2 linked regions of the Homo sapiens genome follow. The protein of the gene in region 1 interacts with the protein of each later gene in a pairwise test. Each region holds a gene or a part of one and is shown in the gene's direction. Other genes may lie near its edges.

Region 1 (7,876 bases):
GAACCCCAAATGAGCTCAACTCAGAACTTCTACTGAGGACCCCTGGACTGACCCACTGGCCCTTTCACTGGCCTAGAGAGTTCCCCTCTGGAGGACACTACAACTGCAGGGCCCCTTCTTCACCCCTATCCGGCAGGAAGTAGCCCAGAGCGGTCATCACCCAGTTCCCAACAGCTGTTGGGTGACCTGTTTAGAGGGATAATTGAGAGGTGAGGCCAGCTGGACTTCCTGAGTTGAGTGGGGACTTGGGGAACTTTCCTGTCTTACAAGCGGATTGTAAAATGCACCAATCAGCACTCTGTAAAACGCACCAATCAGCAGGATTCTAAAAGTAGCCAATCACAGGGAGGATTGAAAAAAGGGCACTCTGATAGGACAGAAACGGAACATGGGAGGGGTCGATAAGGGAATAAAAGCTGGCCACCCCCCCCCAGCCAGCAAGGCAACCCGCTAGGGTCACCTTCCACGCTGTGGAAGCTTTGTCCTTTCGCTCTTCACAATAAACGTTGCTCACTCTTTGGGTCCATGCCATCTTTAAGAGCTGTAACACTCACTGCAAAGGTCCGCAGCTTCATTCTTGAAGTCAGCAAGACCACAAACCCACCAGCAGGAACCAACTCTGGACACATTATCTCCTTTACAGCTTGGGTCCAGAGAGCTGCCTTAGACTCTCCAGTGAATCTATTCAAACAGCTGCCTCTGTTATCTTGACTCATCTCAGATTTCGTCCACCTGAGACACGTGCTGGTACTAGGAATGTAAGACTGTCTGTATTATTTTGGCTTGCTCCAGGTTAGGGAGAAGCCCGTGTGAAGCTTCAACTGACCATGTGTTTCATTTCTAGCTTTGATGTCTGGGCACTGATTTCCCTAGATTTAACTATTTGCTCAATGTTAAGGCAGTTTTGTGGAAATTTGTCTGTGTAACAGAAGTGCTGTGCAGGTCTGTCTGTGTGACTGTCATGCAGGCCTGTCTGTGTGATTGTCAGGGAGAATTGACCTGCCACAAATTGGGAGGAAAAGCAGTCTGGATACCATGAACCAATTCTTGGTGTTGCTAGGACCTGGTCTGTCAGTAAAGGAAAACCAAGGCAAAACATGCTTTGACCACTGTCCTAGTTATAGATTTATTACTTATGCTACAAATTTGTCCTTTTTTTCTGCTTTGTGATAATGGAGATGGGCCTTATAAATATTTCTCTTTTACCCATTACCAGTGTAGGGTGCTGGAAGACAAGGAAGGAGGAAGAAGCTTCCTTTCCAAGTTTCAGTGTTGAGGTAGAATAGGGTCTAGAGGAAGGGAACCTAAGGCCAATCACGCTGACTTTCTAGAACTAGATCAAAAGGAAACCCCACTTTCCATGCCCAAGTAACAAAAGGACCAGAGGCTATTGCCTTTGCAATCCCTCACCTTTTTTGCATGGCAGATGAAAAATTGAAATTACTTCTGATTGGCCGGGCATGGTGGCTCACACCTGTAATCCCAGCACTTTGGGAGGTCAAGGCAGGTGGATCACCTGAGGTCAGGAGTTCGAGACCAGCCTGACCAACATGGAGAAACTCCATCTCTACTAAAAATACAGAATTAGCCGGGTGTTGTGGCACATGCCTGTAATCCCAGCTACTCGGGAGGCTGAGGCAGGAGGATTGTTTGAACCCAGGAGGTGAAGGTTGCAATGAGCTGAGATTGCACCACTGCACTCCGGCCTGGGCGACAGAGCGAGACTGAGTCAAAAACAAACAAACAATAAAAAAACCTACTGTTATGCGTACTGTAGGAAGCAGCCCTACTGGGTCTGTGGGTTTTTCTCTTCGTGTGTGGAGACAAGAGATCATAGAAATAAAGACACAAGACAAAGAGATAGACAAAAAGACAGCTGGGTCCGGGGAACCACTACCACCAAGGTGCAGAGACCAGTAGCGGCCCCGAATGCCTGGCTGCACTGTTATTTATTGGATACAAGACAAGGAGGGAGGGTAAGGAGTGTGAGCCATCTCCAATGATAGGTAAGGTCACGCGAGTCACGTGTCCACCAGACAGGGGGCCCTTCCCTGTTTGGCAGCTGAGGTGGAGAGAGAGAGAGGACAGCTTACGCCATTATTTCTTCTATGCATTTCAAAGACTTTAGTACTTTCACTAATTCCGCTACTGCTGATTAGAAGGCAGAACCAGGTGTACAGGGTGGAACATGAAAGTGGACCAGGAGTGTGACCACTGAAGCACGGCATCACAGGGAGACGTTTAGGCCTCTGGATGGCTGCGGGCGGGCCTGACTGATGTCAGGCTTTCCGCAAGAGGTAGTGAGCAGAGTCTTCTCTAACTCCCCCGGGGAAAGGGAGACTCCCTTTCCCTGTCTGCTAAGCAATGGGTGCCTTCCCCAGGCACTGACGCTACTGCTAGACCAAGGTCCGCTAGGTAACGGGCTCCTTCCCAGGGGCTGGCATTACCGCTAGACCAGGGAGCCCTCTGGTGGCTCTGTCCAGGCATAACAGAGGGCTCACCCTTGTCTTCTGGTCACTTCTCACCATGTCCCTTCAGCTCCTATCTCTGTATGGCCTGGTTTTTCCTAGGTTATGATTGTAGAACAAAGATTATTATAATATTGGAATAAAGAGTAATGCTACAAATGATTAATGATATATACAATCATATCTATAATCTATTTCTAGTATAACTACTCTTATTCTATATATTTTCTTTATTATACTGGAACAGCTTGTGCCCTCGGTCTCTTGCCTTGGCACCTGGGTGGCTTGCCACCCACGCGTACAAAGAAGGCAGAAAGGAAATACAGAAAATTCAAACACTGCTGGGATTCTGAATGTTGTTTGTCTTTTCCTTATACTTTTCCTTTAAAATAAAAAACTACAATGAGAACATAATGCTTCATAATAGAAAAAGATTTACACTTAAAAAACATAGATGATGAAAGGGAGCTGGCTAGGGCACCAGGGACAGGCATTGGGAAGGTGACCTCAAGCCGCAGTGAAGAAGTAATGAACAACCTAGGGACCAATACAGAAAGGCCACCTGTGGTTCACTTATATAACACATCTCTACCTCATATTATACCAAAATACATTCCCTGAGCAGTAAAGAATTATACGTTTTAAAAAGCAGTACAATTTGGAAGTAAATTAGGAAGTATTTTTATATTTTAGAGTTTGGGGAGACATTTAAAAGCAAACTAGGAAACTCAGAAACCATTTTACTAAAAGTATAGATTCATTGGGGATATATAAAATTGAATATATATATTTTTGAGATGGAGTCTTTCTATTGTCGCCCAGGCTGGAGTGCAATGGCGCGATCTCAGCTCACTGCAACCTCTGCCTCCCAGGTTCAAGCGATTCTCCTTGCCTCAGCCTCCTGAGTAGCTGGGATTACAGGCACCCGCCACCATGCCCAGCTAATTTTTTGTATTTTTAGTAGAGATGGGGTTTCACCATGGTAGCCAGGCTGGTCTTGAACACCTGACCTCAGGTAATCCACCGGCCTCGGCCTCCCAAAGTGCTGGGATTACAGGCATGAGCCACTGCGCCTTGCCTAAAATTAAATATTTTATATGGATATCATATTATAAACTAAGAGGAGCAAAATTATGTTATCAACTCAATTGTTGCATAAACATTTGATAGTGTTCATAAAAAATTATTGATAAAATATCTTTATAAACCTGGTTTAAAAAGATTAACTTGATAAGAGGTGCAACCTGTTGTAAACAGCTTACTGAGGAACTTTGGTAATCATTACCGACCAAGACAAGAATGCTTAATTTCTTTCCGACTTATAGTTGAGGAAGCCCTAAACAAACAATAAGAAAAAGAAATGACTCTGGGTGTGGTGGCTTACACCTGTACCCCTAGCACTCTGGGAGGCTGAGGTGAGAGGATAGCTTGAGCTCAGGAGTTTGAGACCAGCTTCAGCAACATAGTGCGATCCCATCTCTACAAAAAAATAAAGAAAATAGCTGGGTGGGGTGGTACGCGACTGTATTCTCAGCTACTTGGGGGGCTGAGATGGGACCATCACTTGAGCTGGGGAAGTCAAGGCTGCAGTGAGCCATGGTCGCGCCACTGCACTCCAGTCTAGGCGATAGAATGAGACATTGCCTCACATAAAGAAATGAGTTATACACATTAAAACAATGAAAATATGCAGAGAAAATATTTATATTTGATGGTTCAAATAATAAACTGACAGCTATCAGAATTCAGCAAGTTTCCAGGAAAAAGGTTCTATTTAAATAATTATCAATGGCTTCCCTCTACAGGAGAAGTTATCAATACAACAATGAAAGGGAAAACTAAAAGGCCCAAAAGGACTGAGTGAGTGTCAAGGAGAGTCTGTTTCCTATTAGAGCTGCAAATATATGTGTCCTGTGTACAGGACTGTAGCAACGTGGAGGATAGGTAGAAACCCGATCGATGAGCATCCTGTATCCGTGGTAGCTGAGAACCTGGATGGGAAGCCCTAGCCTTAGCCCCATCCCTAGGCCTTGTCACTTAAGCCCCGCCCAGCCCTCGTCTCCGCCCCCTAGGAATTTCTACCAAGCCCCGCTCCCAATCTGGTTCCACCTTTAGCCCCGCCCCTTGGAGTATTTAAAAGGCCACGCCCCTAGGTCTAGCCCCAGTTCCGCCCCTCAGGCCGAGTCATGCAAGTCCAGTTCAGGGTTCTGTTTCTTCTCTGTTTACTCCAAATCATGAAGAAACTAGGATTTCTCATCCACTTGCGGCTGGAACCAGCCTTGGCGCTCCTTTGCATCCCGCTCCTACCTGCTCCACCCCCTTCACCTCAAGTCCCGCTTCCCAGGCCCCGCCCCATACGCCATTTGCAGCGCCGAAAGAGGAATCAGAAGTGTGCTTCTGCGCATGCGCGAGTCGACAGCCTTGTCACCCTACGCCTCCGCCCGCGTCTGAGGAACATTTTTGCCTCCGCCCGCTTCCTGTCCTGCCCTGCCCCGCCCCGCCCTGCCTGCCCCGGGTCGGGTCCGCGGGAGACCGAGGGCTGGGTTTGGGAATCGGCGGTCTAAGGGCTGCCTCCCCGCCACTCCTTGTCCGGACCCCGCGCCCGGGGCCTCCCGCCGCCGCGGCGCCTCCTCAGAGAGCCCGGGTCAGCTGCCCCTGTGGCCGCGGCTGGTCCCAAACTCACTGAATCGGGAACTCTGGTCTGGGTACAGAAATCGGGGTGATTCTGATGCAGGCGAGAGTTGGAGAACCAATGTCGTAGTTCATCAGCCTCCGAAAGCATCCTTTGCTCTCTTTCCAGAAAGGAAGAGCATCTCTGCCATTCGTGTCTCAAGGACAAGCGCTTCAGCCTCGTTCTCTGTGAGCTGATCTGTGGATCGCGGCGTGTCGGGTGAGCACGGGGTGACATTTGCCTCGGCTCGGTCCCCTCCTGTCCCCTCTTTATGCATTAGGTAGTGTTTGGGCCAAGCGCGGTGGTTCACGCCTGTAATCCCAGCACTTTGGGCGGCCGAGGCGGGCGGATCGCTTGAGCCCAGGAGTTTGAGGCCAGCCTGGGCAACATAGCAAGATCCCGTCTCTACCAAAAAAAAAAAAAAAAAAAAAAGTAAAATAAAAGGTGCTCTCCTGTGTTCCCAGCTACTCGGGAGGCAGAGGTTGCAGTGAGCTGAGATCGCATCACTGCACTCCAGCCTGGGCAACAGAGCGAGACACTGTCTCAAAAAAACAAAAAGATAGTATTTGGTCTCTGGATATTATATTCTGCCTGTGGACATCAGTTTGATACATTATATTCAAGTGAAAGTGAACTGATGCATTTTGTCATTAATGATGCATTTGAATCATTTGTCTATAGATTGGTTAAATTTCACACAGAAAATTTGGTCATCTGTCAGTTTCAATCTTTTCCCTTTTTATTCCTTGCAGTTTCCATTTCTTTTCATTTCTTTACTGCACTTGCCAGGACCTCCAGTACAATGTCCGACAGAATAGCATGTAATTTACATCCTGTCTTGTTTCTGATTCCAGAGGGAATTATTCTATCATTTCACCATTAAATAGGATGTTTGCTGTAGGTGTTTGTAGGTTTTTTTCCTTTCTTTATTCCTATTTCTTTTTAGAAAATAGGAGTCTCGCTCTGTTGCCCGGGCAGGTCTCGAACTCATGGGCTCTCCGCCTCCCAAAGTGCTGGAATTACAGGCATGAGCCACTGCACCCGGCCTGACCGTGTTTTAAACCGCTGATTTTTTTTTCTTTAATTACTGGGTGTAATCAGGTTTTAGATCACTGCTTGAAAGTTGTACTACTTTCTAGAAATTCATTAATTACCTGTGCATCTTCATATTTATTCCTTAAATTTTTTCTATATTCTCCTTATGATATCTGTAATTATGATTAATTCTTGTTCATTTTTTTTTTGTTGTTGTTGTTTATGCCCTGTTGCTCTTAAAATTGCTGAGTCTGTTGCTGGCTGCAGTGGCGCATATCTGTAGTCCCAGCTGGTGGGAAGCTAAGGCAGATGGATCGCTTGAGCCTAGGAAATGAGATCAACCTGGGAACATAAAGAGTCTGTCTTAAACAATAAATTAAATTAAAAAATTTTTTTAAAAAGCTGAGTTTGTCAGTTTCATTAGTTTTTCTTTTTGCAAAGGATGCTTTTTTAGCTTTTCTGATTTTGTTTACTATGTTTTAAAAAAGATTATTTTCTATTTTCTTTCTAAACTTTTATGCTGGTCTTTATTCAACTTTATATATCAATAGTCTAGCCTATTAATACCGATTTTTTTTTTTTTTTTTGAGACAGAGTCTCGCTGTGTCTCCCAGGCTGGAGTGCAGTGGCGTGATCTTGGCTCACTGCAACCTCTGCCTCCTGGGTTCAAACAATTCTCTGCCTCAGCCTCCCAAGTAGTGGCGATTACAGGCACCTGCCACCATGCCCAGCTAATTTTTTTGTATTTTTAGTAGAGGTGGGTTTCACCATCTTGGCCAGGCTGGTCTTGAACTCCTGACCTTGTGATCCACCCACCTTGGCCTCCCAAAGTGCTGGGATTACAGGTGTGAGCCACCGTGCCTGGCCAGTACTGATTTTTTTTCCTCTAGGAGTTGATAATGCTTATAAATATATAATAGATATACTAAACCCTCTGAAATTCCAGCATGATCTGAAATAGTTATTTTAATTTTCTGCTTCTACCCTGCCACATTACCTGTCCTGACTTGCTAAAGATAAATATGTTACGTGTCTCCTTATCCCTATAATGTGCTACATTTTTTATATAGCATGTATCTCTACCTGATGTATTTTGTTTAATGTCTTACCCAAAATATTATAACATTCATTTGCTTCAGGATTTTTCTTTTTTATTTTTCTATGCCTTATTCCTTGTGACTTCATGTAGTAGGGTCAGGATAAATGTCACCTAAATAAACATGAAACGAAGGAGGTAAGGGCTATAAGGGAAGCATCGTTGCCCAAGACATAGGCCTTAGGAAAAGGAGCTCAAAGATAACATATTTGATTATTTATTTATTTTATTTATTTTGAGACAGAGTCTGGCTCTGTTGCCCAGGCTGGAGTGCAGTGGTGTGATTTCGGCTTACTGCAACCTCTGCCTCCTGAGTTCACACAATTCTCCTGCCTCAGCCTCCTGAGTAGCTGGGACTACAGCTGTGCGCCACCATGCCCGGCTGATTTTTGTAGTTTTAGTAGAGACAGGGTTTCGCCATTTTGGCCAGGCTGGTCTTGAACTCCTGACCTCATGTGATTCCCCCGACCTTGGTCTCCCAAAGTGCTGGGATTACAAGCATGAGCTACCACGCACAGCATATTTGATTAGAATGCTTCATTTGTCCACTCTCTGTAGTGCCCAATAGGGTTCTAGGCTAAATCCTGGTAAAACTAGGGAATAAGG
Region 2 (7,102 bases), about 40 Mb from region 1:
AAAAACAAAAAACAAAAAACTAGAAAGCCTGGGCCAGGTGCGGTGGCTCACACCTGTAATCCTAGCGCTTTGGGAGGCCGAGGCCGGCGGATCATGAGGTCAGGAGATCGAGACCATCTGGCTAACACGGTGCAACCCCGTCTCTACTAAAAAAAAAATACAAAAAATTGGCCCAGCGCGATGGCTCACGCCTGTAATCCCAGTACTTTGAGGGGCTGAGGCGGGCGGATCACAAGGTCAGGAGATCGAGATCATCCTGGCCAACACGGTGAAACCCCGTCTCTACTAAAATACAAAAAATTAGCCGGGCGTGGTGGCGGGCGCCTGTAGTCCCAGCTACTCGGGAGGCTGAGGCAGGAAAACGGCGTGAACCCGGGAGGCGGAGCTTGCAGTGAGCCGAGATCGCGCCACTGCACTCCAGCCTGGGGGACAGAGCGAGACACCGTCTCAAAAAAAAAAAAAAAAAAAAAAAAACTAGAAAGCCTGGATCCGCTTGAGAGGCCGTCACTGAAGGGCGGGAGCTCCTCGCGGACGCACACACCCTATCTAGCTCAATTGGTGTCCCCGGCCACCAAGACAGGGCCCGCCCGCGGTAATAATTGCCACCTCCCAGTGGGAGCTGCAGATATTTCCCAGCGTCCTGTGCTGGGCGCTGTGCCAGGAATATCACAAGCATTAACTTGTTTAATTCTCATAATAACCCCAGGAGATCAAGCCTCTTTTGATGCCCAGATGAGAAACGGGACCCAGAGAGGTGAAATGATTTGCCCGAAGCCACACAGCACGTGTCCCAGGGGAAATTGGAACCCTGGCAGGGCCGTTGAATTAGGCTAAAGGGACCTTGGGAGCGCTGAGTGAGGGTTTCTTGCATGGATGGATGAATGAATGAATGAATGAATGAATGAATGAATGAAACAGAAATACCCAAAAGGGAAAGACAGAGACACAGAAAGTGACACGAAGAGACAGAAGCACATAGAAGAGACATCGGGGAGGAAAGAAGCAGAACCGAGCCCTGGAGCGTCTACACTGACCCTGAGCGGGAGAATGGCGAATGGGGAATGAGGGGTGTCTACACAGACCCAAACGCTCCTAGAGGGAGAGCGTCGGCAAGGAACGCCCTTGGGAAGGTCCCCGAGTCCAGGAATGGGGAAGGAGCAGGGCTGGGGCGTGACCATCCGCGGGCGGGGTCAGCGGGCCGCGGACCCTCTGGGGTCAGTCCAGGGGCGAACTCCTCACCCCGGATCTGTGGAGTCAACTATGAACGTCGTGCAGGTCTTCTTCTTGAAGATCTTGGGGATCCAGCTCTGGGGACAGGAACAAATGTAGGGGTGGAAGTGGGGTGAGAGGGCACCCAGTTCTGTCCTATGGGACACAGAGCCACCCACCCCGTGCGCTCCCCACGGACACAGGAGTCCGGGCCCCCAGCGCCCTCCCGCTCCAGACTCAGGAGTCTCGACCCCCATGCCCTGGACCCTGGAACCTGGACCCTCCCATCCCCCTCCTCCGTCTGACCCAGGAATCTGGGTGTCCAGCGCCCTCCTCTCTGGGAGCCTGGAGGCGAGGTCCCCAGCTCCGCGCTCCCGCAGACCCTGGTCCGGCGCTCACCTGCTCCTTCTCCGGCACCACCATGCTGCCGCGGCCGCCGCAACCTCCTGCAGCCCAGGGCCCCGGCGCTCCCTCCGCCGGCTCTGCTTCCAGACCCGCCCAGAGCAAACCGGATCCTCCACTTTCCAGCCTAGCCTGGGGCGGGGCGAGGTCTGGGGGGCGGGGAGTCTTGGAGACGCCAAAGCGGGAGGCGGGGAGAGGGCGGGTCCCAGGCCGCGATAAGGGGACAGAGGGACAGCGACCTGGGGGGTGCAGAGGTCCGGGCCGGGGGGAGAGAGACACACAGGGGAGACTCCAAGGGCAAGCGCGAGATGGGAACAGAAGGAGTTGGGGGCCAGTGGCGGAGAGGGAACAGACTCAGAAAGGAGGATGCCAGACAGGGAGGGGACAATTTAACCCAAAGAGGGGGAGACAAAGACTTAGGGGACAGAGAATCAGAAGGTGGGGCAGCAGGGACCCAGGGATAGACAGAGAGAGAGGGGGACAGAGACCCACAGAGAGAGGGGGACAGAGACCCAGGGAGAGGGGACAGAGACCCAGAGAGAGTGGGACAGAGACCCAGAGAGAGTGGGACAGAGACCCACAGAGAGAGGGGGACAGAGACCCAGGGAGAGGAGGACAGAGACCCAGAGAGGGGGGGACAGAGACCCAGAGAGGGGGGGACAGAGACCCAGGGAGGGGGGGACAGAGACCCAGGGAGAGGGGACAGAGACCCACGGAGAGGGGGACAGAGACCCAGGGAGAGGGGACAGAGACCCAGAGAGAGGGGGACAGAGACCCAGAGAGAGGGGGACAGAGACCCAGAGAGACGGGGACAGAGACCCAGAGAGAGGGGGACAGAGACCCAGAGAGAGGGGAACAGAGACCCAGAGAGAGAGGAGGACAGAGACCCAGAGAGAGGGGGACAGAGACCCAGAGAGACGGGGACAGAGACCCAGAGAGAGGGGGACAGAGACCCAGAGAGAGGGGAACAGAGACCCAGAGAGAGAGGAGGACAGAGACCCAGAGAGAGGGGGACAGAGACCCAGAGAGGGGGGGACAGAGACCCAGGGATGGGGGGACAGAGACCCAGGGAGAGGGGACAGAGACCCACGGAGAGGGGTACAGAGACCCAGGGAGAGGGGACAGAGACCCAGAGAGAGGGGGACAGAGACTCTGAGACAGAGGGGGACAGAGACCCTGAGAGAGGGGGACAGAGACCCAGAGAGAGGGGAACAGAGACCCAGAGAGAGAGGGGGACAGAGACCCACAGAGAGAGGGGAACAGAGACCCAGAGAGAGGGGGACAGAGATCCACAGAGAGAGGGGGACAGAGACCCACAGAGAGAGGGGAACAGAGACCCAGAGAGAGGGGGACAGAGATCCACAGAGAGAGGGGGACAGAGACCCAGGGAGAGGGGGACAGAGACCCAGAGAGAGGGGGACAGAGACCCAGGGAGAGGTGGACAGAGACTCTGAGACAGAGGGGGACAGAGACTCTGAGAGAGAGTGGGGACAGAGACCCAGAGAGGTGGATGCCAGAGATGGGGAGGAGACACCTTGACTGAGGCAAGGGGCAGAGGGGGATGCAAAAACCAAAGAATTGGGGGAAGGGCAGGAACTCAGAAAGGAGGGGCCAGAGATTTAGGGGAGAGAGAGGGACACAGACTTGGGGGAGGACTGACACTAAGATAAGAGTGGGACAGAAGCCCAGAGTGAGAGGGAGAGGCAATCCCATGGAGGAGGGACAGGGACCCTGAGAGAGCAGATGACAGAATTGAAGAGAGAGGAGGACCCGTGAACAGGAAAGGAGACCCTAGTGGGGGCAGTCATGAAGGGTGAGGAGTAGGAAATACTGACACACAGAGACGGGCAAGGCCACTTGTCTCCTGCCAGCCCTCTGTGATGGGGACAGCTGTGGCCTCCGTAACCTGAGTCCCCCTACCCCTCCCAGCTGTATTTATAGCCCTGGCCTAGCCCAGTCCCTGCCCCCAGATCTGAGTTCCAGGGACAGGAGGTCATGGGCACGTGTGTTGGGGGCCATGTTCCTTTCCCCCCATTCTAGGGCCTCAATACTGACATCACTCTCTCACCAGCACGTATCATTCCAGCTGGAAACACCCCGCAATCGAACCCCCAGTCCTTCCGTCCCAGGAGTCTCTCCCCTCTGATAAGTCTCTTCTGCCTCCCCCAGGTGCCCCAGGCTCCCCCAAAAACCTGCTAAAAGTCTAGCCTTTGTCTTTGCAGCTGCCAAACGTGAGCTTGTTGGTAGTTCAAAGTCAAGTCCCTTGGCCACCGTCTCCTGGCCAGGGAGAGACCCCTCACTGGTCCCCTCCCCAGCTGGGAGGAGGAGGAGCAGGAGGCAGGCAGGCGGGGACTGACCCAGAATAACTCAGGGCTGAGAGTAAATTTAGCTGGAGAGAGGGGAGGGGAAGGACCCTATTGGCTGGGGAATGGGGAGGGAGGGCCCCAGAGGGGGGTCAGGGGGCTCCGGAGACAGCCTCAGAGGGGTGTCCAGAGCCAGGCAGCAAGGACCAGAGGAAGGTGGACAGAGACCGAAAGGACAAAGGAGAGACACAGAGAAAAAAAGAGACCAACCCCAAAGGGACAAAGACCCCAACGTTTGTCCACATTGCCGCAGAGGCAGCTGGAGCCAGTGCTGCCTGTCCGTCCCCATGGGCCACCATAGGCCATGGCTGCACGCTTCTGTCCTCTGGGCTGGGGTGGCCAGCCTGCTCCTCCCCCCGGCCATGACCCAGCAGCTCAGAGGGGATGGGCTAGGCTTCAGAAACCGGAACAACAGCACTGGAGTCGCCGGGCTCTCCGAGGAGGCATCAGCAGAGCTTCGCCACCACCTCCACAGCCCTAGAGACCATCCAGATGAGAACAAGGATGTTTCCACAGAGAATGGGCATCATTTCTGGAGCCACCCAGACCGTGAAAAGGAGGATGAAGATGTCTCCAAGGAATATGGGCACCTACTCCCAGGCCACAGGTCCCAAGACCACAAAGTCGGAGATGAGGGTGTCTCAGGTGAGGAGGTCTTTGCAGAGCATGGTGGGCAGGCCCGTGGGCACAGAGGCCACGGGAGTGAAGACACGGAAGACTCAGCTGAGCACAGGCACCACCTCCCCAGCCACAGGAGCCACAGCCATCAAGACGAGGATGAGGATGAAGTTGTGTCCAGTGAGCATCACCATCATATCCTCAGGCATGGACACCGAGGCCATGATGGGGAAGATGATGAAGGAGAAGAGGAGGAGGAGGAGGAGGAGGAGGAAGAGGAGGCCTCCACTGAGTATGGACACCAGGCCCACAGGCACCGAGGCCATGGGAGTGAAGAGGATGAGGATGTCTCAGATGGACACCATCATCATGGCCCCAGCCACAGGCACCAAGGCCATGAAGAAGATGACGATGATGATGATGATGATGATGATGATGATGATGATGATGATGTCTCCATTGAATATAGACACCAGGCTCACAGGCACCAAGGCCACGGGATTGAAGAGGATGAAGATGTCTCAGATGGACACCATCATCGCGACCCCAGCCACAGGCACCGAAGCCATGAAGAAGATGACAATGATGATGATGATGTCTCCACTGAGTATGGACACCAGGCCCACAGGCACCAAGACCACAGAAAGGAAGAGGTTGAGGCTGTCTCAGGTGAACACCACCATCATGTCCCTGACCACAGGCACCAAGGCCACAGAGACGAGGAAGAAGATGAGGATGTGTCCACTGAACGTTGGCACCAGGGTCCCCAACATGTCCACCATGGCCTTGTAGATGAGGAAGAGGAAGAAGAGGAGATCACAGTCCAGTTCGGCCACTATGTTGCAAGCCACCAACCTCGAGGCCACAAGAGTGATGAAGAGGACTTCCAAGATGAGTATAAAACAGAAGTCCCTCACCATCACCACCACAGAGTCCCCAGGGAGGAAGATGAGGAGGTCTCTGCTGAGCTTGGCCACCAGGCCCCCAGCCACAGGCAAAGCCACCAAGATGAAGAAACTGGCCATGGTCAAAGAGGGTCCATCAAAGAGATGAGCCATCACCCCCCAGGACACACAGTGGTCAAGGATAGAAGCCATTTGAGGAAGGATGATTCTGAGGAGGAAAAGGAGAAGGAAGAGGACCCCGGCTCCCATGAGGAAGACGATGAAAGTTCAGAGCAGGGAGAGAAAGGCACCCATCATGGCAGCCGGGACCAGGAAGATGAGGAGGATGAGGAGGAAGGTCATGGCCTCAGCCTGAACCAGGAGGAGGAAGAAGAGGAAGACAAGGAGGAGGAGGAGGAGGAAGAAGACGAGGAGAGGAGGGAAGAGAGGGCTGAGGTTGGGGCCCCACTGAGCCCAGACCACAGCGAGGAGGAAGAGGAGGAGGAGGAGGGGCTGGAGGAAGATGAGCCCCGCTTCACCATCATCCCCAACCCACTGGACAGGAGAGAGGAGGCTGGAGGTGCCTCCAGCGAGGAGGAAAGCGGTGAGGACACAGGTAAGTGGCCTGGGCTGGTGTGGGTGGGAAGGAACCGAGTCAGCCTGGGTCACTGCTGCCCTCCTGTCCCCGCAGGTCCACAGGATGCTCAGGAGTATGGGAACTACCAGCCAGGGTCCCTGTGTGGCTACTGCTCCTTCTGCAATGTATGTCCCCAGCCCAGATCCACCCACCAAGGTGTCCCCAGAATCTGTCCCAGGGGCCCTGGGGTGGTGCTGTGGGAGGGCTCAGAGCAAGGGCAGGCCAGGGTCAGTTCTGAAAGAAAAGAGATCCTTCTGCAGGCATGTGAGGTGAGGACAGACTGAAGGCTGGGAGGCTGGGGCAGTGGTCCAGGAAGGAGAGGACAAGACCCAAGCTGCATCTTGGGGTGTGGGGACAGAGACAGGGGTCTGTGGCAAAGAGAGTCGGGGGAAGGAGGGATGGCACAGGGGCTGATAGGCTAGGGGGAGAATAGGCAGAGAGCGGGTGGAGAGAGCACCTGAGCCCACCCTGACAGGGAGACATGGGGTCGCCCTGAGATAGAAAACCAGGGGCAGGGCCGGGTGTGGTGGCTCACGCCTGTAATCTCAGCACTTTAAGAGGCCAGGGTGGGCGGAACACGAGGTCAGGAGATCGAGACCATCCTGGCTAACACGGTGAAACCCCATTTCTACTAAAAAATACAAAAAAATTAGCCGGGCGTGGTGGCACGCACCTGTAATCCCAGCTACTCAGGAGGCCGAGGCAGGAGAATCGCTTGAACCCGGGAGACGGAGGTTGCAGTGAGCTGAGGTTGCGCCACTGCACTCCAGCCTGGGCGACAGAGAGAGACTCCGCCTCAAGAAAAAAAAGGAAAAAAAGGGAAAGGAAGGAAACCAGGGGCAGGGGAGGGGAGGGGAGGCTGGTTTGGGGGGCAGATACAGAGCTCAGTGTTAGAGATAAAGAGGGTAGAGTCTGGGGAAGCGTCCAGGGTGCAGGGGTGGGCCAGGGGCGGGTACCTCCCAAGTGGCGTTAGAGTTTCCATCTAACCA

Evidence for each region. Proteins that work in one complex are often made in the same cells at the same time.
Region 2: the proteins of ZNF699 (region 1) and HRC interact in binary tests that used the Homo sapiens proteins (3 or more experiments, as listed by UniProt).

The regions. Positions count from the first base shown.
Region 1 is NC_000019.10:9,306,832-9,314,707, reverse strand, and holds the start of ZNF699 (zinc finger protein 699), read left to right. Parts: upstream 1-4,869; 5' UTR 4,870-5,358; intron 5,359-7,876. UniProt on the Homo sapiens protein: May be involved in transcriptional regulation.
Region 2 is NC_000019.10:49,152,397-49,159,498, reverse strand, and holds the start of HRC (sarcoplasmic reticulum histidine-rich calcium-binding protein precursor), read left to right. Parts: upstream 1-4,102; 5' UTR 4,103-4,261; coding exon 4,262-6,092; intron 6,093-6,167; coding exon 6,168-6,238; intron 6,239-7,102. UniProt on the Homo sapiens protein: May play a role in the regulation of calcium sequestration or release in the SR of skeletal and cardiac muscle.